Linked DNA regions of Homo sapiens: region 2 is linked to region 1. A link means that fine-mapping ties the variant in region 1 to the plasma level of a protein whose gene starts in the linked region. Region 1 holds a variant in brackets. A gene starts in the other region. All regions are shown on their forward strands.

Region 1 (10,585 bases):
AGCCGACGTGGGTGGATCACCTGAGGTCAGGAGTTCGAGACCAGCCTGGCCAACATGGTGAAACTCTGTCTCTACTAAAATACAAAAATTAGCCGGGCGTGGTGGCAGGGGCCTGTAATCCCAGCTACTCAGGACGCTGAGGCAGGAGAATCGATTGAACCTGGGAGGCGGAGGTTGCATTAGCCAAGATTGCGCCATTGCACTCCAGCCTGGGCAACAAGAGAGAAACTCCATCTCAAAGAAAAAAAAAAGAAAGAAAGAAAAAGAAAAGAAAAGGTCTTCATGGTCCTACGAGGAAGACTGGCTTCCATGAAGCAAGGAACGTGGCTGACTGTCTACACTTGCGCTAACAATAGCTCGGGAAAGAAAACACAGTTTTTGTGCATGATTTTCTGACCCTCACCAAACTTGGGCGGATGGCTACGGGCAGGGTTTCTTATAAAGCTGCTCGTTTCCCCGGGTGCCGAAAAGGAATTCAAACAGAGGCCTTTTCTGTTCTTGTAACTTGCTGACCCACATGGGAAGTAGCCACCCCCCCAGTACCCTGACATTCCCACCCAGCCACCAGGCAGCAGCAGCCGCTGGGCTCTCTGACTGCAGCCCACAGCGAGAGACGAATTTCATGCTGTGATCCAGAACATACACACAAGCACCCGCACACACAGGTGCATTTGTATGTGTTACTTTCTCCTGGATCCCCAGTGCCTGCCACACAGTAGCTGCTCAACAAGTATCTACTGAGTGAGTGAGTGAATAGAATAATGCGTTTGGAAATACACGGTTGACACTAAAGTTTGATGGGACAATGCTCACCTTACTACGTGCCTTCTGTTGAGTTTCCCAGTCCATTAATGGGTCACAACTCAAAGTCTGAACAACACTGCTGTGAAGCCCCCATCTTAAGGGGCATGTGGATTTAGTCCTGAGATACAGGTAAGAGCTTCACAGATGGATTGTCTACTGCATGTCAAGCTTTGCCAACTGCCAACCAGGGATGGGGCCATCCTCATTGGCCACCCCTTTGACTGAACCAATTCCACGTTTCAGGGCTTGTCACTTACACCCCCACTCACGGCACTACAGGGAGAGAAGGGACAGAGAAAGCCAGACTCATCTGCGTCCTTCTCTTTCTCCCTATTTGAAAATCATTTTAACTTAGAAGTTAACATGTACTTGGACTATTTCTGAAGTTTCCATATTGTTGGAGGTTTTCTGTTTTGGGTTATGGAATCCTATTTTCTTTGATTGATTTTTTTTTTTTTTTTTTTTGAGACAGAGTTTCACTCTTGTCACCCAGGCTGGAATGCAATGGCGCGATCTCAGCTCACTGCAACCTCCACCTCCCGGGTTCAAGTGATTCTCCTGCCTCAGCCTCCTGAGTAGCTGGGATTACAGGCATGCACCACCACGCCCGGCTAATTATTTGTATTTTCACCATGTTGGCCAGGCTGGTCTTGAACTCCTGACCTCAGGTGATCCGCCCATCTCAAACTCCCAAAGTGCTGGGATTATAGGCGTGAGCCATCGCGCCCGGCCTTATTTGGTTGATTTTGATTTGGGGTTTATTTGTACCTCAGACACAAAGGTTAGATTGGTCATATTCCTTACTTCATGACACTAGGTCTTCCTCAGAGGTCTGAGCTAAACCTTTGTCCTGTTTCGTTCTTCCCTAGCTCCCATCCTGTTTCCCCTCACTAATTCTATACTCTCTACTCTCTATAGGCAGCCAGAAGTCTGAGTGCCCTGACAGTCCCCACAGATGGTGCCCATCAATTTCTCCCCTCACCACATGTGCAAGTCACACCACTCAGCCAGGGGTAGAGTCTGTTTCCCCTCCCCTTGAGTCTGGGCTGGCCCTGTGACTTGCCTTGACCAACAGAAAGCACTAGAAATGACACTCTGCCAGTTCTGGGCCTGGACCTCAAGAAACCTGGTAGCTTCAGTTTTCAATCTTGGAAGTCAGTCACCATGCTATGAGGAAGTCCAACTATCCTGCCAGAGAGAGTCCTGGGGGATAAGACAGCACATGGAGAGAGAAAGAGGCCACACAGAGGTGCACTGAGGCCCCAGACATGTGAGCAAAGTCTTCTGGGAGTTTCCAGGGCAGCCCAGTCACCAGCTGATTGTATCCAAGTGTTTCACTCCAACCAATACCCCGTGGACCGCCCAGCCTAGCCCTGCCCAAATTTCTGACCCAGAGAATCTTAAGAAAAAACAGTTGGTTTAAGCCACTGGAGCTTTGGGGTGGTTTATTATGCATCGGTAGATAGCTGAAACAATATATATTACTAAATATGTAGGTACCCTTATAAAATATGTGATGGGGTTTGCATGTCTATCTGTTCTGTATTTACATACACAGAACTTTCATATATCTCATTTGTTTCTGATCTTTTTCACTCAACAAGAAATTTTTTAGAGCTATTTGTATTGCTATTTGTTACAATGGATTGTTACATTGCTATTTGTTTATCTGGTTTGTTGCTATGAACTGCTGCACAGTATTCAATGGTGTGTATCCATCACAGTTTATTTCCCCTAATAATGAACTCAGGTTGTTGCCAACAACTATCACAATTAACATGACGACTGATGTCCTCATCGTGTTCCCATGTGGACCTAGGTGAGAATTTCTCTTGAAACTGTATCCAGGCCAGGTATGGTGGCTCAGGCCTGTAATCCCAACACCTTGGGAAGCTGGAGTTGGGAGGATCACTTGAGGCC[A/G]GGAGTTCAAGGCTGCAGTGAACTATGATCGCACCACAGCATTCCAGCCTGGGCAACAGCAAGACCCTTTCTCAAAAAAAAAAAAAAAAAAAAAAAAGGAATGAAAGAAAAGAAAAGAGAAACGAAGGAAAGGAGGGAGGAAGGAAGGAAGGAAGGAAGGAAGGAAGGAAGGAAGGAAGGAAGGAAGGAAGGAAGGAAGGAAACTATATCCCCGAATGGTATTGCTCATTCGCAGAGTATTGCCATACCTAATTCCACTCAGGACTGCCAGACTGTTTTCCAGAATGGCTCTGCCAGTTCACACTCCCACCAGCAGTATACGAGGGTTCTCTTTTTGGCTTTGTCGCTTGATATTATTAACATCGCAATTGTTGCCAAGCTGATGCCATATCCTTGTTCTTTTATTTTGCATTTCTGGCTAACAGTGGGTTTGAACATTTCTTCATCGATTTATTAATCATTTGGGTTTCCTCCTGCATGAATTGCCTTTTCATATCCTTTACCAGTTTTTCTATTGGCTTTCCTGAATTCACTTTGTTGATAAGCCAGAATTTCCTGTATGTTCTACTTGTTCAGAAAACGAGACCTTTTGAAAGTTAAAAAATATATACATGTTGTTAACTCCAGAAAAATTAATAGAAGCTCTGAAACATAAAATTTAGAAAATCTTCCAGGAAAAAAAAAAGACATAGGTTTTTTTTTTTTAAATGATAAAAGTTAAATTGGGAGAAATTATTTTTTCTCTGGTCTCATGCTACTGAATATATTTCCCACTAGGGAAACTAGACAATCTCCAGACTCCCTTTCTCTCTTTTTTTTCTTTCTTTCTTTTTTTTTTTGAGACAGAGTTTCCTTCTTGTTGCCCAGGCTAGAGTGCGGTGGCCGCGATCTCGGCTCACTGCAACCTCCGCCTCCCGGGTTCAAGTGATTCTTCTGCCTCAGCCGCCTGAGTAGCTGGGATTACAGGCACTCACCACCACACCCAGCTAATTTTTGTATTTTTAGCAGAGATGGGGTTTCACCATGTTGGCCAGGCTCGTCTCGAACTCCTGACCTCAAGTGATCCGCACGCTTCGGCCTCCCAAAGCGCTGGGATTACAGGCATGAGCCACCGCGCCCCGCCCAGACTCCCCTTCTTAACCCACTCTTCCTCAGGGGAGGAAACTGACTGATTGGCATGCTTGGCTCCGCCCCTTGGGGGGGCTCCCTTTGGTGTCTTTCTGCCCACAAGAAGCACACCTTGTATTCTACTCTCTGCCAGGCGGCACAGAGCTGCTCCTGCTTTGCCCTCCTCTGCCTGTGACTGGGTGGATACATCTGCTTAATTATTGGATGAACTAATTACAAGGTTTTTTGATCTAAGGTTTTAAGTCAAATCCTCCTTGTTGCTTATCAGTAATTATGCTAACATTTTGATATCCGCTCATCTGTCTACTGTGTCTTGGCTCTCAATTGATTTCAAACTTAAGAGGAAAAGATAGGGTTCTTTTTTTTATTAGCCCCATAAAACCTCCCCAAATAACACAAACAATATGTTCAAAGAACCAACATCCAATTAATAGAAGTTCTAGAAGATAAATAAGAGGAAGAAAAGGAAGAAAAAGATGAAAGAAAGAATACAAGGCTGGTACTTAGAATTAAAAAGGATAAGTCTCCAGATTTAGGTATTCTAGTAATAGCCCAGCCGAGCACATTCATTCAAAAATGACCCAAAGCGTGTCACCATGAAATTTCAGAATACCAGGGATAAACAGAAAATTCCAAAAACTACCAGGGGTGGGAGTAAATCACCTACAAAGAAACAAGAATCAGAATGGATTTCATTTTTCAGCTGTTATATTGAACACGAAGAGACAACAGGATGATGCCTTCAAACTTCCAAGGAAAATTTTTTTCAACCTAGAATTGTAGACTCAAATGATCCATGGCACGAGAGGGGAGGCTACAGAACTGTCAGATATTCCAGTTCTCAGACTATTTATCTCCTACTCCCATGTGAGGAATTACCCCAGAAAGTGAGGAAATTATCCAAAAACAACACATGTAGAAGAACATCTCAGTATAAGCCTTTTTCATTATTAGGAAAGAAAATCTTATTCAGCTTTTTCTGTATTTTTTGCCTACAGGCTGACTTTTTTTCTTATAATGCAAACTGGTGAAATTCCAGAACCTGGCCTTGGAAATGCAAGTCACCATAAAGAACATGAGTTTAAGGTCTGGGCATGGTGGCTCTCGCCTGTAATCCCAGCACTTTGGGAGGCCAAGGCGGGCAGATCACCTGAGGTGGGGAATTCAAGATCAGCCTGACCAACATGGAGAAATCCTGTCTCTACTAAAAATACAAAATTAGCTGGGTGTGGTGGTGGGTGCCTGTAATCCCAGCTACTCAGGAAGCTGAGCCAGGAGAATCGCTTGAACCCGGGAGGCAGAGGTTGCGGTGAGCCAAGATTGCGCCATTGCACTCCAGCTTGGGCAACAAGAGCGAAACTCGGTCTTTAAAAAAAAAAAAAAGAACATGAGTTTAAGGAAGCAGTAGAGACTCTCCTATGATAAGCCGTCAAAGTGAGAACGTTTACTAACTCCCCATCTTGTTCTCTCATGTACTGTGGAAACCTAGGTGGGCACTTATAATTCCTGCTGACTTTCGGCCGGGCGTGGTGGCTCACGCCTGTAATCCCAACACTTTGGGAGGCAGAGGTGGGCGGATCACGAGGTCAGGAGATCGAGACCATCCTGGCTAACACGGTGAAACCCTGACTCTACTAGAAATACCAAAAATTAGCCAGGCGTGGTAGCGGGTGTCTGTAGTCCCAGCTACTCGGGAGGCTGAGGCAGGAGAATCACTTGAACCCGGGAGGCAGAGATTGCAGTGAGCCGAGATCGCGCCACTACACTCCAGCCTGGCAGAAAAGAGCCAGACTCTGTCTCAAAAAAAAGAAATTGTTAGCGAAACATCAGGAGTTCAGTCTAAGTCCTGCGGCTTTGCTGCACACAGAAAGCCAATCACTGAGATGATGAGTAGTGCCAAGGAAGAAGGCTTTAAATCAGGTGCTGCAGCCAAAGAGATGGCAGCTGTCTCAAATCCATCTCCTGGACTGACTAAAACCAGGGGTTATATAGCAGGGAAGAAATGTAACAATGTGTCAGAAAACAGGAACTAGGGAGGTGCAAGGAGGCATTTGGTGCGTGATCTGGTGAGTTTCAGTTCTTCCATACATTTCTTTTTTTTTTCTGAGACGGAGTCTTACTCTGTCACCCAGGCTGGAGTGCAGTGGCACGATCTCAGCTCACCACAACCTCTGCCTCCTGGGTTCAAGCAATTCTCCTGCCTCAGCCTCCTGAGTAGCTGGGATTACAGGCACCCGCCACCACGCCCGGGTAATTTTGTATTTTTAGTAGAGACAGGGTTTTACCTTGTTGGTCAGGCTGGTCTTGAACTCCTGACCTACTATACGTTTTTGAGAGGACTGAAGGTACTTTCCTGAGGAAGGAACTCAAATCAAACAAATATAAGTTTCGTCCGGGCACAGTGGCCCACACCTGTAATCCCAGCACTTTGGGAGGCCAAGGCCGGTGGATCACGAGGTCAGGAGTTCAAGACTAGCCTAACCAACAGGGTGAAACCCCGTCTCTACTAAAAATACAAAGATTAGCCGAGCGTGGTGGTGGGCGCCTGTAATCCCAGCTACTCGGGAGGCTGAGGCAGGAGAATCACTTGAACCTGGGAGGCAGAGGTTGTGGTGAGCCAAGATCACGCCACCCTACTGCAGACTGGGCAACAGAGCAAGACTCCATCTCAAAAAATAAAAAAATAAACATATATATATATATGAGTTTCAAGCTTTAACGGCAGAAGGGTCAAGTTCTATGTTTATCCAAAACTGTCTGTGGAACTATAGGGCCGGTTTAAAAATCAGAAGAGGGGCACTGGCCCTTTCCTCTTCTCCTATGGGCATGATGGAATAACTGGGATTTGTAAGTCTGCTAGAATAACACTTAGCAAATAATTCGAATTAAGTTAACACTCAAGACACTGACTGTGGCTAAGAACGCCACAAAGGAAGTCCTCCTGAGAAAGAAGAATCTTATTTTAGAGAGTTTTTATTTTAAGAAATAGAAAACTGCCCTAAGGAAAACATTGCAAGATTAGAATAACTGGCATATCTCCAGTAAAAGCAAAAGAAACTATGCAAGAAGAGAAATGTTATGACAATAGAGTACTAGGTTCTGCAGGACATAACATTTACATAGACATGTAATGTGAACGTTTCATTTTCGTTTTTTTACTAAAGATGCTGATGTAACTGCATTTGGAAGACAGCAGTGGCTAAGAGCTAATCCTCATCTTGGGAAATAAGCAGTAGAATATTAATAAATCCCCTCTCCACTTTGTCCAATGGTCACCTGGCATTGGGAGGGATCTAGTTCGAGGAAAGCTGACCAGTAATTGTACTTTCCTGCCTCTGTATTATATTTTTATTTATTTATTTAAGATGGAATCTCGCTCTGTCGCCCAGGCTGGCATGCAGTGGCAGGATCTCAGGTGACTGCAACCTCCTCCTCCCAGGTTCAAGCGATTCTCCTGCCTCAGCCTCCCAAGTAGCTGGGACTACAGGCACCTGCCACCACACCCAGCTAATTTTTGTATTTTTAGTAGAGATGGGGTTTGGCGACGTTGGCCAGGCTGGTCTGGAACTCTTGACCTCAGGTGATCCACCTGCCTCGGCCCCCAAAGTTCTGGGATTACAGGCGTGAGCCACCGCACTCAGCCCCTGTCCCTGTATTCTAAAGGATGTTAGCAAGAACCCTCGGAAGCCCAACCACAGGAGAGGCGTGGACTTAGCAGCAACCATTGTAAACATCGGCTGTGGGAAGCAGAGGAGAGGGGAACCCGGGAGAGCCAGTTTTCGGGGTGAAACAAGCAGGTGGCTGGTGAAGCCACTCATCGGCCAAGGAGCCCGTGGGAGAGCTGGTTGCCAGCAGGGCAAGGAGTCGCGGAGTTTTGTTTGGGACATGGGTTTCTTGTGCTGTTGGTGCATTCGGGTGGAGCTGGCTAGAAGGCAGTTGGACATAGATGGGCCGGAGACTGGGAACCAACAAAGGCAATCAAAGCCAGGGAAGCGGAGAGAAGGGTCTAGAACAGAGCCTGAAAAACACCCACATGGACCTGGAAAGGAGAAGGGGAAGGTGCAGCCAGAGAGGCAAGAGGAAGACAAGGAGGGCGTCATCCAGTCCAGGATGAATACCTGAGCCTGTGTATTTCCCTGTGATGGTTACTACTGAGTGTCAACTTGACTGGATTGAAGGATGCAAAGTATTGTTCCTGGGTGTGTCTGTGAGGGTGTTGCCAAAGGAGATTAACATTTGAGTCAGTGGACAGGGAGAGGCAGCCTGCCCTCAACCTGGGTGAGCACTGTCTAATCAGCTCCCATCTCAGGTAGGATAAATGTAGGCAGAGGAACATGGAAGGACTAGACTGGCTGAGTCTTCCGGCCTCCATCTGTGCCCCGTGCTGGAACATCGGACTCCAAGTTCTTCAGCTTTTGGACTCTTGGACCAGTGGTTTGCCAGGGGCCCTCAGGCCTTCGGCCAAAGACTGAAGGCTGCATTGTCAGCTTCCCTACTTTGGAGATTTGGGGACTTAGACTGGCTTCCTTGCTTCTCAGCTTGCAGACACCCTATTGTGGGACTTCTCTTTATGTTCGTGTGAGTCAATACTCCTTGATAAACTCCCTTTCATATATACATCTATCCTATTAGTATGTCCCTCTAGAGAACCCTGACTAATACATTCTCTCCACACAACTTCCCAATATGTTCCCTATTATTACAGTAGTAATAATTCAATAGAGAAAATATTCATATAACTATTGGAAATTAAGAAAAGATTTCCCTCACATGCCACAAACTCTGAGGCATCTCTGCAAGGTGCAGTGTGGATAAGGGTGAGCGAAGGGCAGAACAGCCCGGGACTCTGTTGTGGAGGGAGGCAGAAGGAGCCCTATGTGTGGAACAAACAGGACCCCCAGGGAATGCCACAAATATCCCTACCCTGTTCAGGTGGCGTGAGCGGGGGACAGGGCTATTTGGGGTGCCAAGTTCAATGGTATTGAGGTCTGCAAGAAGTGCCTCAGATGCCAGGTCCAGAGTGAGCCGAGGCCTCTGCAGTACTGTGGCTCCCCTTAGCAGGGCACACTCTAAAGAAGGCAGAAGTGCTACAAGCTTGGCTGCAAACTACAAGAGCAAAATGTCATAGAGGACAAGTCGCTGCCCCAGCTCCCTCTTATATTGCCACATAAATCCAGAGAACAGGCCGGGCGCAGTGGCTCATCCCTGTAATCCCAACACTTTGGGAGGCCGAGGTGGGCGGATCACCTGAGGTCAGGAGTTTGAGACCAGCCTGGCCAACATGGTGAACCCATCTCTACTGAAAAAAAAAAAAAATTAGCCAGGCGTAGTGGCAGGTGCCTGTAATCCCAGCTGCTCGAGACACTGAGGCAGAGGAATTGCTTGAACCCGGGAGGTAGAGTTTGCAGTGAGCCAAGATGGTGCCACTGCACTCCAGCCTGGTGACAGAGCAAGACTCTATCTCAAAAAACATCTCATTCGAGCTTAGGAGGTCAAGGCGCAGTGAGCCGTGATTGCACCACTGCACTCCAGCCTGGGTGACAAAGCAAGACCCTGTCTCTAAAAGATATAAATAAATACATAGACAGATACATAGATACATAAATACAAAGAAAACATTTCTCCAAGCTGTATGAAGCCTTTGTTTCCTATTCCAATGCCTTCATCTAGAAACTGGCCTCTAGTTTCTGAAACAAACACAACACCATTCATTAGCTCATGCTCATCAGAAAGTATCAGGGGCCTTCACTGCTCCAAGCATCAGCAGCAACTCATAACACTCACACTTCCGAGACCATCCTGGCTAACACAGCAAAACCCCGTCTCTACTAAAAATACAAAATAAAATTAGCCGGGCGTGGTGGCGGGCGGATCACAAGGTCAGGAGATCGAGACCATCCTGGCTAACATGGTGAAACCCCGTCTCTACTAAAAATATGAAAACAAAAAATTAGCCGGGCGTGGTGGTGGGTGCCTGTAGTCCCAGCTACTTGGGAGGCTGAGGCAGGAGAATGGCGTGAACCCAGGAGGCGGAGCTTGCAGTGAGCCGAGATTGTGCCACCGCACTCCAGCCTGGGCGACAGAGCAAGACTCCAGCTCAAAAAAAAAAAAATTCACACTTCATATTCTCTTAGTTCCCCCAAATAAAGCCAGGGCGTTTTTTCCCCTCTGATAATAAGCATCCCGTAATTGTGTTTCCTTTTTCATTTTAGCTTCCAGGAATCTCAGAGTGAAACCAGACACTACACGTTAACAACTTTGTCCGTGGCACACGCCTGTAATCCCAGCACTTTGGGAGGCTGAGGTGGGTGGATCACTTGAGGTCAGGAGTTCGAGACCAGCCTGGCCAAAATGGTGAAACCCCTTCTCTACTAAAAATACAAAAATTAGCTGGGCATGGTGGTGCACGCCTGTAGTCTCAGCTACTTGGGAGGCTGAGGCAGGAGGATTGCTTGAACCCAGGAGGCGGAGGTTGTAGTGAGCTGAGATTGTGCCACTGCACTCCAGCCTGGGTGACAGCCAGACTCCATCTAAAAAAAAAAGAAAAAAAAGAAATAGGTAAAGGGAATGTTGTGTCCTAACTGGAGTTCTCTGAGGGCCAAGGACCTCAGAATTACCTTGCTCAAACAAAGCCTGAAAGAGCCAACCCTAGCTAAGGTGAAGGGTGTTCCTGCTCAGCAACCCACAGTCTCTGGGAAGACTGGAAGAGATCTTCAAGAGTTCCTGTAACCTT
Region 2 (10,585 bases), not on the chromosome of region 1:
GGAATTTTTTTGCAGCTCACTTATTTTAGATTTACAAGATGACCAGCACCAGTCTCCTCCTCTCCTTCTCCTGTCAGTGGTAACAAACTTAATGGGCATTTGACAAAGAATTCACACAGTTAGGATCTGCATGATGGGGTTGTGGAGGGTCGCCCTTGGACCACAGCTCCTATAGAAAGCACTCCATGCTGAAGATGTGTGGGTGTCTTTGGAGCTCACAGCTGCTTAGGGAAAAGTTCCAAATGGCTATGAATCCTTGGTGGTAGCCTACATACAGTTGGTGGGGAGTGGGTGGGCCTGGAAGGGGACTTCAGTGATGAGGATCAGCAGAGATACCATTTTTGAACCATATTAGAGGATTTTTAAGGCTCATTTTGTAGCTGACCTTCCCTGAGTCAGCCAGAGCCCATCACTGCCTGGGGAGGGTTATGATGGATCCTAGAACAATGTTCGACTTTGACCCCCAAAGTAAGCTCTGGAAGCCCATGGTGAGACAATAACACCCAAAGTCAGGCATTGTGGAGAAGAAACAGGGGCTTTTAAAATTCCCCAAATTCCCTTCTGCATAGCAAGAGCAAAGCCAGCTCAGCTTAGAACATATTTTTATCCTAAGTGATAGGAGCTGGGGGTGTTGGTGGAAGGGAGGGAGAATGCAAGGGAAGGTCCCTGCTGTTAGAAGAAGGAAGAGCTCCCCACTACAGGAGGGTGGAAAAAGAGGTTCAGAGAGGGCAAGGTTGAGAGGTAAGATACTGTCTGAGTTCTTCCAGGGCTCACAGCCCTGTGTGGATGGGCTGGGAATGGTGGGAAGAGCATGGAGATAGACATCCCCTCTCTGGGGGTCCACTGTGGGGTAGAGATGGGGTCATGGTGAGTAAGCAGAAAAAGAGTGAGACTCCAGGGTCTGCTTGTGATATGGAAAGATCCAGAAGCTCCTCAGCTAATGGCAGCTGAGGGGCTTGGCTGTCAAAGTGGGCAATGGGGTGGCAAAGTGACAAACTTTCCCTTCTTCCCTGCTCTCCACTGGGAAGGAGAGGCTGGGAGCAAGTCTTGGACCTCTGGAGCCTTTGTACACCTGTGGTGTCTAGCACTGTGCTTTTCCACAGGTTGCTTTCTGTTGGGTAGGACCCCTACCCACAAGGGCCATGTTGCATGGTATGGGCCTTCTCCTTTTCCACACCACAATACACCCACATCAAGAGCATACTGACTTCAAGACAGCCCCGATGGTAAACAAACAAACAAAACAACAACCCTGAGTTCTTATTATGATCAAGAGTTTGGGCCAGGGCTTTGCGGGAGGGACTAGGAAAGTCTTCACTCATTTGGGGCCCTGGCATGTATGTCTCCTCTGATTCTTCAATGTACTTCCTCTAAACTTCTCTTGAGAACTTGAGTTTGAAAGTTATATCTCTGTGTCCTTAGATCCTGAATAGTCAATATCTTGAGTGCTACTGCTGCTGCTGATGATGTTGGAGAAGACAACCTCCTTGAGTGCTTAATACATGCCTGGCACTTTCTAAGCATTAATCTTTGTGATAACTCTAAGTTCTATTATTACCCCCACTTTGTAGGTGAGGAAACTGAGGCACAGAGCCATGGAGTAACTTGCCAAGAGCACAGAGCCCTAACCGGCAGGGGCTAGGCCAATCCCAGGCAGTGAAACTCCAGGGCCTCCACCCTTACGCTGTGTCTGATCTCACTTTGTGTCTTTATGGGGCCTGGCAGATAACAGGTGCTCAGCAAAGATTATGCTTCTAAGAATCATCACCCTTCCTACAGATAGGTTATGACTGTAAAGCTCTGGTCAATGGATCTCTCTCTTTGGACTTGATTACTTTTTTTTTAGGCTTTCCTGTTAGTTTTGTCTACCCCATCACGCTGTCCAGCCTGCAGCTGGAGCTCTGGGAGAGTAGATGCTCTGAGGTCTCACCCTCAACTTGGCCTCTGACAGGTTCCCTGCCCAGCCAAACTGCCATCACCAGTAGACAAGCTTCCTGGTAATCCTCACATTGAATTCATGTGATGCATGGATGAGGTATCAACATCAGTCCTGTCCTGGAGCCTGAGGAGTGAACCCAATGATCCCTGAGACCCTTCTAGTCTTCAAAGTCCACACTGACCAGAGTGGTTTTAAAATATTCATCATCTTCTTTAACTAGTCTCAGAAAATAATACTCCAAAATATGAACATTCCCACTTTCAGGCCCATGCACACTCTACACACTTTTCCAGGGCCAGTTCAAATGATATCTCCTCCTCCAGGAAGCCTTCCTTGCTTATCTGGCTGAAATTGAACTTCTCTTGTTTGAACACCCAGCCCTTGGTTTCCCCAAGCCATTCACTCCCTGGTGCCTCTGTTTAGCTTTCCCTGGCCTTGGCTTATTCTCAGTTACAGGCAGGACCCAGATTGCACACACGCTAGGGCCCCACCCCCAGCTCCTTGCAAGCAGATGTCATTGTTCCAACATTGATTGATATGTTTAATGAATCCCATATTTCAAGAATGCAACTGACCAGACATAACTCAGGAGTGGTTTTCGCCATATAAGCGGAGCTCTGAGTCACAAATCCTGTGTCTTCAGAGGTCCTTTAATGTCATTCTCTGCCCCCTCCTCCTTGAGTAGCAACAACATTAACAACCATTGATTAAAGCCTACTGTGCACCCAGCCCTGTGTTAAGGGCCTTTCTTACAGTGCCTTAGTGCATCCTGACAACTTTACAGGACACGGAATTTGTGTCTCCATTCTTCACATAAGGAAACCTGTTGGAAAGGTCGCATAACCAGTCCAAGATTGAACAGCTAGCAGGGTGCAGAGCCAGAAGTGGAAGCCAGGTCTGATTCCAAAGCCATTGCTCTTAGCTTCCTGAGGTCCAGGCTGTCCCTAGCCCCTAAGGCAGCCACTCCTTCCCAAGGTTCTGATGCAGCCACCTATCTGGAGTCACACAGGAGTGCGTCTCTTTTCTTGTGGCTGGATCTCCTAGTGATATGAGGACAGTTCCTGGAGAAGATTCTCCCCTCCTGTCTAAACACACCTAAATGGGCTTGGCCTCCTCCCGCAGCTGGCTTCTAGTTGCATATTGGCCTGGTGGCAGTTCTTCCCCTGCTCTCCCTTCCAAGCCCCCACAACTCAATGTATCAATGATTGTTTTAAACTGTGACTCTAGGATTCCACTAGCCAGAGGCCCTTTCAACCATGGGCCCTCTGAGAAGCTCCTCTGTAGGCCGACAGGAGGGTGGACTTGCTTCGCGTGGTACCCGGGGACTGGGGCAAGCGGCTGCGGGATAGGGGTCTCCACCTGAGCTCCCTGAGGGCACCTCTCCCACTACCACCGCATCTGACCCCCACTACTGGCCCCAGCTCGGGCCTGGAGCCCACGCAGAAGGGGAGGCAAGGTTGAGCGCCCACACCCGGCCAGTAACCGAGGCGCTGGCCCTTGCCGGAGCACTTGGCCGTCTTCCGCAGAACAGCATCACTGGCAGCCGCCCCGCGTGGAGGGTGGAGCCGGGGAGCCCGGTGTGGGACGGCCGGGGCCAGGGTACCCTAGGGCGGAGAGCTCAGGGCTGGCTTCCCGCTCCCAGCCGCGCGCCCCTCGGGCCGGAGGTTCCTGCCGCGCCCCGACACCTGGAGTGCATTAGGCGGCGGCGCGCGTCTAGGCGACGGCGGCTTTCCCCAGATTATTGAATAATTGCATAATTCCGAGCGCGGGTTGGGAGGCAATGCCGGGTCCCTACCCCGGGTGTCAGGTAACGTTTCGGGGGTCCTGCGCTGCGCGACTGTGTCCCGCCGCTGCTGGCCGGGCAGACGAGAGCTAGCCCCCGCCTACCGGCCATCGCCCCGGGGCTTTGCTCTGTCTTTGGCCGGAGGCACTCTGCGCAGCCCTCACCCCCACCCTTCAGCCCTCCGGGGCCGCCGCGCCCGGCTCTCCAAACTTTGAGATGCTTCCCCGGAGCCAGGCAGGAGGGCAGCCAGGGCACACTCTCTTGGCGCTGATTCCCTTCCCCAGCCGGGGCCGTGCGCCCTCGGCGCTCCCGGGACACCCGAGTGCCCCTGGCAGCCGTGCGGGAACCCCGGCATGGGCCTTGGAGGCACCTAAGGCGCCCAGGAGGGCCACCAGATCTGGGAGCTTTTCAACTCAAGCCTCTTCAACTCTTCCCAAACACACCAAAGAGTCCCGGCTTTCAATAGCCTTCGCACCTCCCTCTTTAGCGAAACTTGACTGAACCGCTAGACTGGGGCCAGTCCCTGGGGGACCCACGTCCCCAAGAGCAGCTGAGGTCTGACCCTGGGAGGAGGGTCGCGTCCCGATCCTGGCCGCTGGATCCAAGCCCCGAGGGCCCAGGGAGGGACTCCGAGAGGCAAGGGGAGGCAGAGGGTGGGCACCTACCTGGCCACAGGCTGAGCGCCCAGGCCACCACCAGGCCCCTGGGCAGGTCCATGGCCCGCGGCACGGCGGCTGGGTCCGGTGTGCAGCGGCGGCGGGGGGCGGCAAGCCAGAGCGGCAGCCTCCTCGGCGCGGCGCCTGCAGCCTGCACTGCGCGGGGCGCCGGGCTCCCTGACAGCTGCGGCTCATTCAGAGGAAGTGGGAGGGCTCGAGCGGAGGGGAGGGGCGCCGGACACCACTCCGGCTCGGGCTCTGGGCCAGTCTCGGCCGCTCTGCCACCTGGGCAGGCGGCGCGCTGCCTCGACGCGCCTGTGCAGCGCTCCTTCTCCGCCAACCCCACGTCAGCCTCTGGAGAAAACTCCAGAGAACCGCTCCTGGGAACCCCCTCACCAGTGTAGCACCGCACCGCCTCAGTCAGATTCTGTTCAGGAAAAGTGGTTTTTATTCCCATTTCCCAGTGAAAAGAGATTCACAAAACTCAGAGGGTACCCAAGCTGGCTCAGGAACACCTGCTGGAACGCAGGTCTCCCTTGGCCAAGTGAGTGGATGTCCCTCAAAGGTCCATTCTAAGACATCCCCGTGTCTCCCTGCACCCTGCGGCTTGAATTGTAGAGGCTAGTGTTTCTTCTGACCCTGGAATACATGCAGATTCGCCTCCACTGCCACTCCCTGAGCCTCCACACCTGAGGCATTCCAAAGCACCCAGGGACACCGTGCACCCCCTCTTAACCTAACGTGAAGCTCTTCTTTGTAACCCTGCCACCTTCTTTCCCTCTTCTAATCACTGGTAGTTAAATTCAATGCACATTTATCTCAAGAGCTTTAAATCCAGGCCCCGGACCTCCACCGCGCTTGTGGAGGCTTTTCCAGCAATGGAGGAAGCCGAGGCAGAGGGTAGGAAGGCCAAGATGCAGGGAAAGCCACAGCAGAGCGCCCTTCCCCCACTTTCTCAGGAAAGGCTTCCTTCACCCCCTCTTCCCGTCCCCACCAGGTTGAGTCCCAGACACATGCTGATATTCCCCAGCCCGCTCTCCCTCATTTCTCTTCATTGTGCTTAGTAGAGAAGCAAGGCATCAATTGGTGTGATCATTTAACTTTTCTCTCCTGTGCAGACTGAAAACACCATCAGGGTAGAAATCTCTGGTTCACAATGGAGTACTCAGCCCCTAACACCCAGGAACAAAGTAGGTGGGCGGGTGGATGGATGGGTGAGTACAGGTGGTGTGTGGGTGCACAAAGGATAGAGTTTTCTATCTGGGAGGTATTGGAAGGGCTTCCCAGAGGAGGTGATGTTCAGTCAGGGCCCCTGAAGATGAGCTGGAGTTTGAGAAGACCCAGGTTCACATAAGTGAAGTGGGCTTGTGCTCGTCTCCCAACCTCACTATCTTTCGGTTGGCTATCTGGGTTTTACTTCATCTTCACCTCACCCATTCAGCCACAGACTCGGGGAAGGTGATTCCGTCCCTGGTGTGTGTGTGTGTGTGTGTGTGTGTGTAAGGAGGCATGCGGTTCAGGCTGAAATGAATCAGTATGTTGCCCTTCCCAGCCCATCGTTTCAGAAAGGGCAATATGACAAAAGAAAAAGTTTTTTTGGGAAGCAAGCTTTCTTGCCTTTCTAAAAGAGCCCCTAGAACAAACAAACAAATGAACTAACTCTCTCTCCTCACCTCTCCCACTCCTGCCTCCTCTCCCAGCCTGGGACAAGGAACTTTGTAGGCTCAGAAGTTGACAGGGTCAGGGTAGGGAAGGAGGATCTGGCCTTGAGATGAGGTGGACACTGGATGACAGAATGGAGGATCTTGTTGAACTCCTGAATGAAGCCACCCCTTAACCCCACTCCCCTTGGGACTTATCAGTTATACGACAGTGAGTCCTCTTCACTGAGTTGAGTTTAAGCCAGCTGAGTTGAATGTAGAACACCCCTACAGCTAGGGAATGGGCTGCAGCCCACATTCCTGCCTTGCACAAATCTCCAGGTGCATCAGAACGACCTGGAGCACGTGCAAAGAATGCAAATTCCCCAAGGATCAGGGCATGCTGGTGGGTGCCCCAGGCACCTCTGACGTGTGGGTGGTCTGCAGCTTGTGCTCAGAGTCTGCATGCTGCTTGCTGAAGGGGCGCACTGTAGTGGCTGTCCTAGCTGCGCTGCTGCTGGTCTCGCTGGTAACAATTCTACCATTCATTCACCTTCACCGTCCTCACAGGTGCCTGGGGAATGGGGGTCCTGAGGATCACTCTGTGTGCTTTTGTGTAATGTGGGAGGGTGAGGGGAGAGGTGTGCCCTCATTTGTTCTTTCAACAGATCCTACAGAGTGCCTACTGTGCCCCTGTGCTCTGTAGGACACACGGAAGGAGAACCCCACACTAGGGCAGCTGGTGATGGAGCTGAGGAGACAAGACATAACCATGTATTTATTTAATCATAATCTGTTATTTATTAATCTATTTAAAACCATTTATTATTTCATCACTATTAAACATTATTTAAATCACACCCAAGGCAGCAGCATATGAGTGACAAGTGCACAATCCAGACTCTAAGGCTGGAGAACTGCAGAGAATTTGGTGAAGGGCTTTATGAAAGCTGTGATTTCTGTTGAATAATAATAATAACTCTTTACATGTACACAGTGTTTTAACTGATTTATTTATTCACATGCCATAAACTGTGCCATAGAATCCAGTAGTTGTTAGTATATTCACAAGATTGTAAAATCATCCTCACTAATTTCACAATATTTTTATCACCCCAAAAAGAAGCCCTGTAACCATGAGCAGTCACTCCCCATTCCTTCCCACCAGTCCCTGGCAACCACAAATCTATTTCTATGGATTTGCCTATTCTGGACGTTGCATATAAATGAAATCATATAATACGTGACCTTTTGAGTCTGGCTTCTTTCCCTTAGCATGATGTTTCCAAGGTTCATCCATGTTGCAACATGTATCAGTATTTCATTCCTTTTTATTGCCAAGTAACATTCCATTGTATGGATCTACCCCCTTTTGTTTATCCATTCATCAGGTGAGGCTTATTTAGGTGTTTCCACTTTAGGTTATTGTGAATAATGTGGCTATGAACACTTGTGCTGCCGGTCTTGCTGGTAGCAGTTCTACCATCCATTAACATAGCATAATGTTAGCATAATGTTCATACAAGTTTTTGTATGAATGTATGTTTTCAGTTCTCTTGGGTATACACCTAGGAGTGGAATTGCTGATCATATAGTAATTTTATGTTTAATCATTTGAGGAACTGCCAAACTATTTTCCACAGTTGCTACATCATTTTAGATTCCTACCAACAATGTACAAGTGCTATGTATAGTGTTTTACTATTTTTGAAATCCCTTTCATATCCATGATCTAATTTAATACTCATCTTGTACAAAATTGTATTTATTTTTTATAGTAAAGAGATTGTATAGTTGAAGATTCTTTCACTTGCAAGTGACAGAAATTCAACACAATCAAACTGAAGCAGAAAATAGAATGTAAAAGGTCATGTAACTAGGAAGTGCAAAGGTGTTCTGTCTGCAGGTGTGGCTGGATCAAGGGTCTCAAATCAATGTTACTGCTCTCTCTCTGTCTTCTCTTAGTTTTGCTTCACTCCATTTTCCTTTCCTGCAGCAGAAGAGTTTCTCTGACTGTCTAGCAGTCCCAAGCTTATACTTCATAGATTCTGAAGGGAGAGAGACAGCCTTCCTTTAGTAGATCCAGCAGAAAAGTCTAGGGCTTTGGTTCATGCCCACCCCTGAACCAGTCCTAGTGTCTGGAGGATATGGTGCTATAATTAGCTCAGTTTGGGACACACACCCAGCCCCATGACTTGGGAAGAGAAAGGCGCCATGACTGACAGCCCCATCAAAACCACATATTACAGGAGAGGACTTTCCTAAAGGAACCAGAAAAAGTGGGATGGCAAAGTATACTGGACAGACAAATCCATGGTTACTAAAAAATCTAAGCTCAAAGTAGCAATAGATTCACGCAAGATTCCACATCATCTATGAGGCAGAACTGAGATTGGAACCCAGCATTCTGAAAGCAGATTGAGTATTAATCCCAACATCCCAACTGGGTGGAGGGAGCGGGTATTTCAGGCCAAGACTGCATGAGCATGGTCAGCTCAGAGACAGGTCCTATTGGCAACTTCTGTGGCTCCCAAGATTTCAGTCTGAGCATGCTCCTCTGGGAGGACCTTGGCTTCTCTATGGAGGGAGAACGAGCAGTGGTCTGGAGTACTGATGACAGAGGCCTTGGCTCAGTTAGGACCAATGCTTTTTTTTTTTTTTTTTTTTTGAGATGGAGTCTTGCTCTGTCACCCAGGCTGGAGTGCAGTGGTGCAATCTCAGCTCACTGCAACCTCTTCCTCCTGGGTTCAAGTGATTCTCCTGCCTCAGCTCCCCAAGTAGCTGGGATTACAGGCGCCCGCCACCATGCCTGGCTGATTTGTGTGTGTGTGTGTGTGTGTGTCTGTATCTTTTTTTTTTTTTTAAGTAGAGATAGGGTTTCACCATGTTGGCCAGGCTGGTCTCCAACTTCTGACCTCAAGTGATCCACCTGCCTTGGCCTCCCAAAATGCTGGGATTATAGGCAGGAGCCACCATGCCTGGCCACAATGCACTCTTCTTCCAGAAAAGTTATTGGGGTGCCCTGATCTGCACTCATTTCAGAGAGGTGCCTCTCTCTTTCTACTCTTTCTCTGAGTTTTTCACCACTTTGACCTTGGGTGATCAATTGTCCTGGTTTGCCTGGGACTAAGAGGTTTTCTAGAATATAGGACTTCAGTGTCAACACTGGGGGACAATCTCTGACAAACTGGGATGAACTGGTCTCCCTGTGTCTATCTTGGGCCTTCTGTCTCACTTTCTCCAACTTTCTTTTCCAATACTCCCCACTCTCTCCCACTCTCTGGTTATTTCTCTCCACCCTTCTCTGTCCTGCTCCCAGGTACCTCCAATGCAGCCAGTCTCCATAATCAGCCTGGGGGCTCCACCTTGAGGCACTCCCTGGCTTCTAGGCTCCTTTCTGCCCTTGCGGTCCCCCTCATGGATCCCACCTCCTCTCTGTACTATCAGTTGGTTTGTGCTTAGGAAATGCAAACTTTTTTTCAAAGATAAGCGTAAGCAAGCTTACAGTTACTGAGAAGGCACATCTTCTGCCAAAAAGTGATATAATAAATCCCAAAGGGAAAAGGAAAAAAAAAAGTAAAAAAAAAAAGCCACCAGATTGCCTTGTTATCTGCTGTTTGAATGATGCATGCCACCGTTTTGGACCAATGACTTCTGTGATAGGAAGTGGCTGCATTTGTCATGCACAAGTGTGCTTAGAGGGTGTCCCTTGGTTTTTATTTGTCATGCCAGGTCTCATCCCCACCAACAAAGTGAAGCAGGTTAACTTTGAAGAAGTGTGTTTACACCAGTAGTGTATGTTTGTCCCAGCCACTTTCCGCTTCAAAGTCTAATCCGAAATGTTAGAGCCGGGTGGATGCTGCCATTCTTCCTAATCCTGTGCCTGCGGGTCAGTGACTGGAATTTCTACAAGGATCAAGCCCTGTACACAACCTATACTGAATCTAGAAAGTTATTTTGTGATCTCCATTTCTCAAGCCACAAGTATATACAGCATTTGCAGTAAAGATATCAAAGGGAAGGAGCATGGCCACAGCACAGACAGACACGCAGGATGGATAAGGAAACATCTCTTTGAAGAAAAAGTATGTCAAAGGGTATGAGAGAATAGAAATTGCTTTAAAAGTCTAGAGGTGTCAGTGGATGTTCCAGCTGAGAGGTCATTTCTGATGGGGTTTAGCTGGGCTAAACCCTTGACATTGGACCGGACTGGAAGAGCCACATCAGAATTGAATGTCACTACAGCGATGTGAAGAATACCTTTAACTGAGAAGTTAATATGGGCTAACTGCAACTCTTGCATCATTTCGTTTAGTCCTCAGCACCACCCAGGGGGTTTCCAGGACTTCCATCCTGGTCCTGGGCTGGGCTGAGATGTCTGAGAGAAGCCATGAAAGTGAAGGTCTGGATGCAGTGCACAGGGGTAAAGAGGACAGTCTTGGGAAGCAGTCATGACGTGAAACAAGACATGCAGCAGAGTGAGGAATTCCCACAGTGCATAGGGTTCACGGCCAAGGGTGCAACTTGGTAAGGGAGCAGGAGTTGAGCCATTCTATTAATGCATTTA

Direction of the effects. Positions count from the first base shown, and alleles are read on the strand shown. Strength reflects both the effect of a copy and how common the allele is.
As copies of A replace G in region 1, the plasma level of the protein whose gene starts at base 4,536 in region 2 goes up (weak association).

The links. PIP is the posterior inclusion probability: the model's chance that the variant is causal. Protein levels are from antibody-based Olink assays in UK Biobank. Linkage for the fine-mapping came from a reference panel and not from the study's own genotypes, which makes the PIPs less certain.
Region 2: ITGA11 starts here. The variant in region 1 is fine-mapped to the plasma level of the ITGA11 protein (UK Biobank, PIP 0.96).

The regions. Positions count from the first base shown.
Region 1 is chr17:7,115,621-7,126,205 of GRCh38, forward strand. No RefSeq gene overlaps it. Among named protein-coding and RNA genes, the nearest start is that of ASGR2, 6.1 kb to the left of the region's middle. RefSeq lists an enhancer at 1-140 and a silencer at 6,222-6,321. The variant A/G (reference allele first, on the strand shown) is at 2,725.
Region 2 is chr15:68,427,628-68,438,212 of GRCh38, forward strand. It overlaps ITGA11 (integrin subunit alpha 11), which reads right to left and starts at 4,536. Exons shown (of 30, transcript NM_001004439.2): 1 at 4,388-4,536. The coding sequence starts at 4,439. RefSeq lists an enhancer at 2,937-3,696 and a silencer at 6,243-6,537.